2 linked regions of the Homo sapiens genome follow. The protein of the gene in region 2 interacts with the protein of the main gene of each other region in a pairwise test. Each region holds a gene or a part of one and is shown on either strand. Other genes may lie near its edges.

What was found.
Region 1: the proteins of SOD3 (region 2) and GOLM2 interact in a two-hybrid assay, tested with the Homo sapiens proteins (one large-scale study listed by BioGRID).

The regions. Positions count from the first base shown.
Region 1 is NC_000015.10:44,410,707-44,413,793, forward strand, and holds part of GOLM2 (protein GOLM2), read left to right. Parts: intron 1-2,629; coding exon 2,630-2,700; 3' UTR 2,701-3,087.
Region 2 is NC_000004.12:24,794,126-24,798,454, reverse strand, and holds the start of SOD3 (extracellular superoxide dismutase [Cu-Zn] preproprotein), read right to left. Parts: upstream 2,883-4,329; 5' UTR 2,804-2,882; intron 1-2,803. UniProt on the Homo sapiens protein: Protect the extracellular space from toxic effect of reactive oxygen intermediates by converting superoxide radicals into hydrogen peroxide and oxygen.

The sequences.
Region 1 (3,087 bases), on a different chromosome or scaffold from region 2:
GCAACATGGTGAAACCCTGTCTCTACAAAAAAAAAAAAAAGGAAAAATTAGCTGGGCATGTGGTGTGTGCCTGTAGTCCTAGCTACTCAGAAAGTTGAAGTGGGAGGATCCCTTGAGCCCTGGGAAGTTGAGGCTGCAGTGAGCCGAGATTGTGCCACTGTACTCCAACCTGAGTGATGGGACTGAGACCCTGTATCAAAAAAAAAAAAAAAAAAAAGGTGCAAAATGGTTACCTGAAATTCTAGAAATGAAAATTTCTGTAAGTTTAACAGGAAAGTTGTTGAAAAAGAAAGTTGGTTTGTTTGACTTTTTTTTTTTTTTTTTTTTTTTTTTGAGATAGGGTTTAACTCTGTTACCCAGGCTGGAGTGCAGTGGTGTGATCTCTGCTTACTGCAACCTCCACCTCCCAGGCTCAAGCAATCCTCCTACCTCAGCCTCCTGAGTAGCTGGGACTACAGGTACACACAACCATGCCTGGCTAAATTTTGTATTTTTAGTAGAGACTGGGTTTCAGCATGTTGCCCAGGCTGGTCTCAAACTCCTGAGCTCAAGTGATCTGCCTGCCTCTGCCTCCCAAAGTGCTGGGATTGCAAGCTTGGACAACCATGCCTGGCCTGTTTTGCATTTTTGAAAGAAGAAAGTTTTAGAGTGTTAAAACCTCTCATACCTAAAGTAATAGTTTTTAGAAAACTATAGTATACATATGAATTTAGATTCCAATGTATGACTTTCTTTAAATTATATTAACAAAAATTAAGCTATTGGGTAATAGTATGTGACCCAGAATGTAAGAAAAGTGATTTTTTAAGTCTGCAGAGAAGCCAAAAGATATCATAAAAATCCATGTACTCTACGCCAGGCGCGGTGGCTTATGCCTGTAATCCCAGTACTTTGGGTGGCTGAGGCAGGTAGATCACAAGGCCAGGAGTTTGAGACCGGCCTGGCCAACATGGTGAAACTAAAAATACAAAAATTAGCTGGGTGCGGTGGCAAGCGCCTTTAGTCCCAGCCACTCAGGAGGCTGAGGCAGGAGATTCCCTTGAACCCAGGAGACAGAGGTTGCATTGAGCTGAGATCATGCAACTGCACTCCAGCCTGGGCGACAGAATGAGACTGCATCTCAAAAAAAAAAAAAAAAAAAATCCATGTACTCCAAAGGGACTCTCCAAGGCTCTCATCAAAATACTTTTCATTCTTGTTCTAATATAATTTTAATACTCTTGGCTGAGGCCGGTGGATCACTTGAGCCCAGGAGTTCCAGACTAGCCTGGGCAAATGGCAAAACCCTGTCTTTACAAAAAATACAAAATGTAGCCTGGTGTGGTGGCGTGCACCTGTGGTCCCAGCTACCTGGGAGGTTGAGGTGGGAGGATTACTTGAGGCCGGGAGGTTGAGACTGCAAGTGAGCCATGATAATACCACTACACTTGAGCCTGGCCAACAGAGCAAGATTCTGTCTCAGAAAAACAAACAAACAAACAAACAAAAAAACCTCTTCAGCAGTCTCATTTCAAAACCTGTAATTTGCAGCAAAATTAGAAAAGAAGGATTGCTATTGGCAGGTAAATTGACAAGAAGGCAAAGTGATCACAACTCATAGCCAAGAAAGAGCCAGAAAAATCTGTAATAGCCAAATAAATCAAACTCCATAGCACTATTTGGAGTAATTTAATACAGCCACTCAAAGAGGCTTTGAGGATTTTAGTAACAGTAATCTTTTTTTTCTGTTTAGTTAAGAAAAGGTTAAACTTTGGTTGTTATACCCCATTTAGGAAGCCAAGAGGAAGCTACTTTTGCAGAGACGTAAAGAAATTCACTAAAATGTTAAATGTTGGGATTATGAGTGACTTTTATTTTTCTGTCTTTTATAATTTTAAAAATACTAATATTGGATACTTTTATAATTTAGAAAAAAAAATTGATGTTTAAAAGCCTGAAAATGTGTACAGAAATGTTTCTACCAAAGCTTTAATTTAAAGGACTAAATATCATCTATATAGAAATAATATATTTAGGCTGGGCACTGTGGCTCACGCCTGTAATCCCAGCACTTTAGGAGGCCGAGGTGGGCAGATCACCTGAGGTGAAGAGTTTGAGACCAGCCTGGCCAACATGGTAAAACCCCGTCTCTACTAAAAATACAGAAATTAGCCAGGCATGGTGACAGGTGCCTGTAGTGCCAGCTACTTGGGAGGCTGAGGTAGGAGAATCGCTTGATCCTGGGAGACAGAGGTTGCAGTGAGCCAAGATCGCACCACTGCACTCCAGCCTAGGCAACGGAGTGAGAGTCGGTCTCAAAAAAAAAAAAAAGACTACATTTATATAAAAATATTAACTCCTCAATATTTGTGCGTTCCTAAAGTTTTACTAGTTATGTCTATCTGGCTCTATTTCTGTTTGTCTGTCATCTATGTCTATTTTCTAAAGATTTGTTAAAATTAATCTTGCAAAATAGTTCCACATACTTTTCACTCTTTAGCCAAGCAACTAAGAAATAGAACACTATTTGTACTAGGTGTAAAATAACAAGCAGGAAACTACCTTAAGGCTATGAAAAACTGAGACATTAATTGGATTTCTGCAGTGATTTAAAAAATAATATGTTGATACAAAATTATTTTACTTACAGATGATGAAGAACGAGAGCTTCAAATGGATCCTGCAGACTATGGAAAGCAACATTTCAATGATGTCCTTTAAGTCCTAAAGGAATGCTTCAGAAAACCTAAAGTGCTGTAAAATGAAATCATTCTACTTTGTCCTTTCTGACTTTTGTTGTAAAGACGAATTGTATCAGTTGTAAAGATACATTGAGATAGAATTAAGGAAAAACTTTAATGAAGGAATGTACCCATGTACATATGTGAACTTTTTCATATTGTATTATCAAGGTATAGACTTTTTTGGTTATGATACAGTTAAGCCAAAAACAGCTAATCTTTGCATCTAAAGCAAACTAATGTATATTTCACATTTTATTGAGCCGACTTATTTCCACAAATAGATAAACAGGACAAAATAGTTGTACAGGTTATATGTGGCATAGCATAACCACAGTAAGAACAGAACAGATATTCAGCAGAAAAC
Region 2 (4,329 bases):
GAGGCATGGGTTTAAGAGACACACCGGGCAGCACTGGCAGGATGGAAGATGAAGGCACAGTGCAGATGACCAGGGTTCCCAGCAGGAGAGACTGAGTGGAGGGAGGGTGGGACCTGTTCTGGAAAAGCAGGGAGAGAGGATTAGTTCAGCTGGAGTCTCCTGAGGGTGAGACGCTGGCGGGTGCCCAGGTGGGAAGACAGGTGGGCAGACAGTCGGAAACTTGGGTCTGGCACTTAGAAGAGGAGATGAAGCTGGCAGGGGTTCTCAGTGTTGACTGCACATCAGATGTCTGGTTTTTAAAAATCAGATGCCCAGGCCCCACCCCAAGAGATTTTGATTCTGTGAGAAAGAAAGGAGAGAAGAAAGACAGAGAGAGAGGAAGGAAGGGAAAGAAAGAGGAAAGAAAGAAAAGAAAAGAAAGAAGACACCTCTATCAAAGATTCTGGGGCCCAGCTAGGAATTATAAAGTCAGGTACAGATTTGAATCCCAATTCCAACCTATACTAACTGTGACTTCACGGGGTTACTGATGCTTAGCTTCAAGTTCCTTACCTGTAGAATAAGGCCAGCCATGCCACCGAGGTATTTCCAGAGGGATTGATGCTGCCTCCAAAGAATTGCTTTGAAGGTCAACTGCATTTCCAGCACCAAACTAGGTGCCATTTAAAAAACTCCAAGATTGGGTAGATATGCTTTATATAACCATTTCAGAAAGGCAATTTAGTGTGGTTATTAAAGGGATGGATTCCAGAACTCACCTCATGAATCTAAAGCCTGACTCTGCCACTTAGTCTAAGGGTTAGCTGTTACTATTTTTATTGCTGAGTAGCAGAGTAATTGCTGGACTGCAGACTGTACACTGTCTCATCCCCTGTGAACCTCAGTTTTCTCATCTGTAAATAGGGATACTAATACAGACTTACCTTAGAGGCTTGCTGCGAGGCTTAAAAGAGATGATTAGAATTGCTAAAACTTATCGAACACAGGCGCCAGACACTATTATAAGTACTGTGCGTGGGTTAATTCCCTGCATCCTCACAAGAACATTATTCAGTGTTATCCCCATTCTAAAGTGTAGGAAACTGAGGCACAGAGAGGCGTGTGTCCCGCCCAAGGTGACATGTTCACTAAGGAGCTGAAGGCAGGATTTGAAAGTGTGTGTCTGCTCCAAGCCCAAGGTTTAGGCACCACACTGCACATCTCTCATCTAGGGCACTTAGCACAGAGCCCAGTACATAGAAAGTTCCCAGTAAATGGCAGCTCTTAGCTATCAGAGAGAGCTGCTGGTAGAGATTTTAAGGACCATTAGCTAAGAGATGCTATGGACACTGTGAGAGGAGGTCCCCTTGAAAGGCTCCAAGAAGGAGGATCCAGAAAGAGGGAGAAGCAGAGAAAGTGATGTTGAAGGACTCACCTAAATGACATGGCCCAATGTGGTACTACTACCCCAAAGCCCCAGGGAGTAGGCAGGAAAGTGGGGTAACTCTCCTGCCAGACCTGGACATGAAGTTCCCCATCATCAAAGACACCTTCCTCCTAAGACAGCCCTGCCACTCAGAAGGGCTCTGCTGCTTAGAAAGTTCTCCCTAAAAGCACAGAGCAAAACCAGATTGTTTTGGGTGTGTCAGTGAGCTTTCTTTTTCAAGAATCCTTGGGAAATAAACATTTTAAGGAGATGTTTTTCTCTGAAACCAAAAGAAGAGCCAGGCATGGTGGCTTATGCCTGTAATCCCACCCCTTTGGGAGGATGAGACAGGAGAATCATTTGAGTACAAGAGTATGAGACCAACCTGGTAGAGACCCCCATCTCTAGCAAAAAAAAAAAAAAAAAATAGCTGGGTGTGGTGGCATGTGCCTGTAGTCCCAGTTACTCAGGAGGTTGAGGTAGGAGGATCGCTTGAGCCCGGGAGGTAGAGGCTGTAGTGAGCCGTGATAGTGATCGTGCCACTACATTCCAGCCTGGGTGCTGGGTGACAGAATGAGACCATGTCTCAAAAAAAAAAAAAAAAAAAAAAAAAAGAGAAGAAGGAGGAGGAGGAGGAAAAGGGGGAAAGAAAATTCTCCCTCAAACCCAGGTAAACTCTGACTTCTTGTTTCTTAAGCCTTTGACACCTCTTCCCCTCGGGACCAACTTGATTCTTCTCCCACAGCCTCTTGCTCAGTTTGAGCTGTGAATGACCAAGTGCCTTTTTAAGGGCCTCCTTTGTACGTGGATCTGGAAGGGAGGACGGTGTTATCAGAGAAAGAGGACAGTGTTATCAGAGAAAGAGGACAGGGGCCCTTATCCTGAACCAAATAGAGGCACCAAGCCTTTATCTCCTTCCTGGGTCTGTATCTGGGAAGAACCTGCCCCTCTTGAGCCTTGGGTGTGTTTCATCCCTCAGCTGTCTCCTAGAAGGAGCTCTTGCTGGGAGCCTGAGCTGGCCAGGGCCTCTCTGCTTTCCTAAGGAGGTGGCTTTTTAGAGTACCTGCTGTCCCATAAGTGGCTCCCGACACCAAAGCCATGCAACATCTAGAAAGGCCCCCTTTCTCGTCACTCCAGATTCCTTTTCCTAACACTAAAATCCTCTTGGACTGGTCTTTGCAGATCCACAGGAGGAACGGTTTCTTCCTCCCCTCCTTGCCTTCCTCCCCGCTCACTCCACCTCCCCACTAACCCCTCAGAGCAGCCAGGGAAAGTACATTTCCTTCCCAAGAAGATGATCCAATTTGTTCCCAAGAAGAGGCCCGTTGCCCCAACCCAGCTTCAGACTCAATAAGCACACTCCGAGAAGAACAAAATGAACCTCAACTTAGCACCCACCTTTCCAGCTCCTCCAAGAGAGCTTTCTCTCCTGAAAAGAGAGCTGCACCCAGCCAGCCCAGGAACGCAGGCTGTCCCTGGAGCCTGGGCTGTTAGCGCGAGTGCAGGAGGCCAGCCCAGAGGAGTGGTCAGCGTGAGGGAGCCAGTCATTGGGCCAGTTCAGGGAGGAAAAGCAGGCCAGACCTCCCCGGGTTGTAGAATTGCTTCGCCTCCACCTCCTCCCGCTCTGTCCCCACCTCCTCTGCCCCTCCCATTTTTGGGTTTTCGGGCCAAGGATTCCATTCCGCGACTTCACCGGCTTGTAGCCAGTGACCTTCAGCACACAGCAGGGGAATAAAAATGAGAAAGAAAATCGCCTGTTTGGAGAGGTGTACAATGACCTCTTTATTGAGAGGCCCTTTGCTTTTCTGTAAGTCAATAACTTATTGACTTATTTTTGCTGCATGGAAATGGGCACCTTGCAAATGTGCGTGGCATTTGCTCCAGAGCTGTGCTGTCATACCTATGAGAGCAGAGCAGCGGGTGGGTCGTGATGACACACTCAGGCTGCAGAGTCCCAGCCTTGTCACTTCCTATCTGTGTACGCCTGAAGCAGCTGCACCACTCCCTGCACCTCCTTTTCATCATCTGTAAAATGGGGGTGTGAGGCTGTCCACCCCGCACGCCCACCGTGAAGATCCAATGAGATCATTACTCGCCCAGTGACAACACAGTGGCTGGCACTAGCCGCACTCATAAGTAATCATCATTGTCATTGTCGTTACCGTTATTATTAAAGAGATGAAGGAGTCTTTTTAAAAAATGTGTTGTCTGGGAGAACTAGGAGTGTTTCCCTCCCGACGTCTGTCCTTTTTTTGCTGCCATGAACTTTTCTCAATCATAGCAGCCCTTTCCAAAAATAGAAGCTCTTCTTTCCCAGAAAAGCCCATGTGGGAAAAACCAGGCAGCCTGCTTGCTGGCCTGCCCGTCCTCCTGCATTCCTGCAACAAATGTTTATTGGGTGCTCATCCATTCCAGTCACCATGCTGTATGCCGGGCACCCACAGCTGCATGAGTCACCTTGGGGGTTCATACTCTGGGGACGGAGACAACAACGTCAGTAAATGCATCCAGTACAGAGTGGGGAGCGCAGCGACGAAGAATGAACAGGGCCTCGTGAGGTCCCAAACACCCGTTTCGGTGGCAGGAAAGCTTATAAAAAATCTAAATCTCTGGATCCCACCCCAGGATGGGTGACTTAGTTACCAGCAGGAGCTTCCTAGAATCATCTTGGAAAAACTCAAACTAATGATCTTTATCCAGGGACAGGCATTCTGCGAGATAAGAGGGAGACTTCCCAGAACTGAGACTCCAGCCCTTCCACCCTACCGTCCTTCCTTCTGGCCCGCTGAGAACTCAGGCACCAGTAGCTCAGTCTTGCACCTCTGCATTCTGTTGGTAGGCGTAGTTATCCTCAACTAATGAGTTTTCAGAGTTCCCCATGCCACCCACCACCCCACCCCCACCCTGCAACAGTCTAGTTCCTT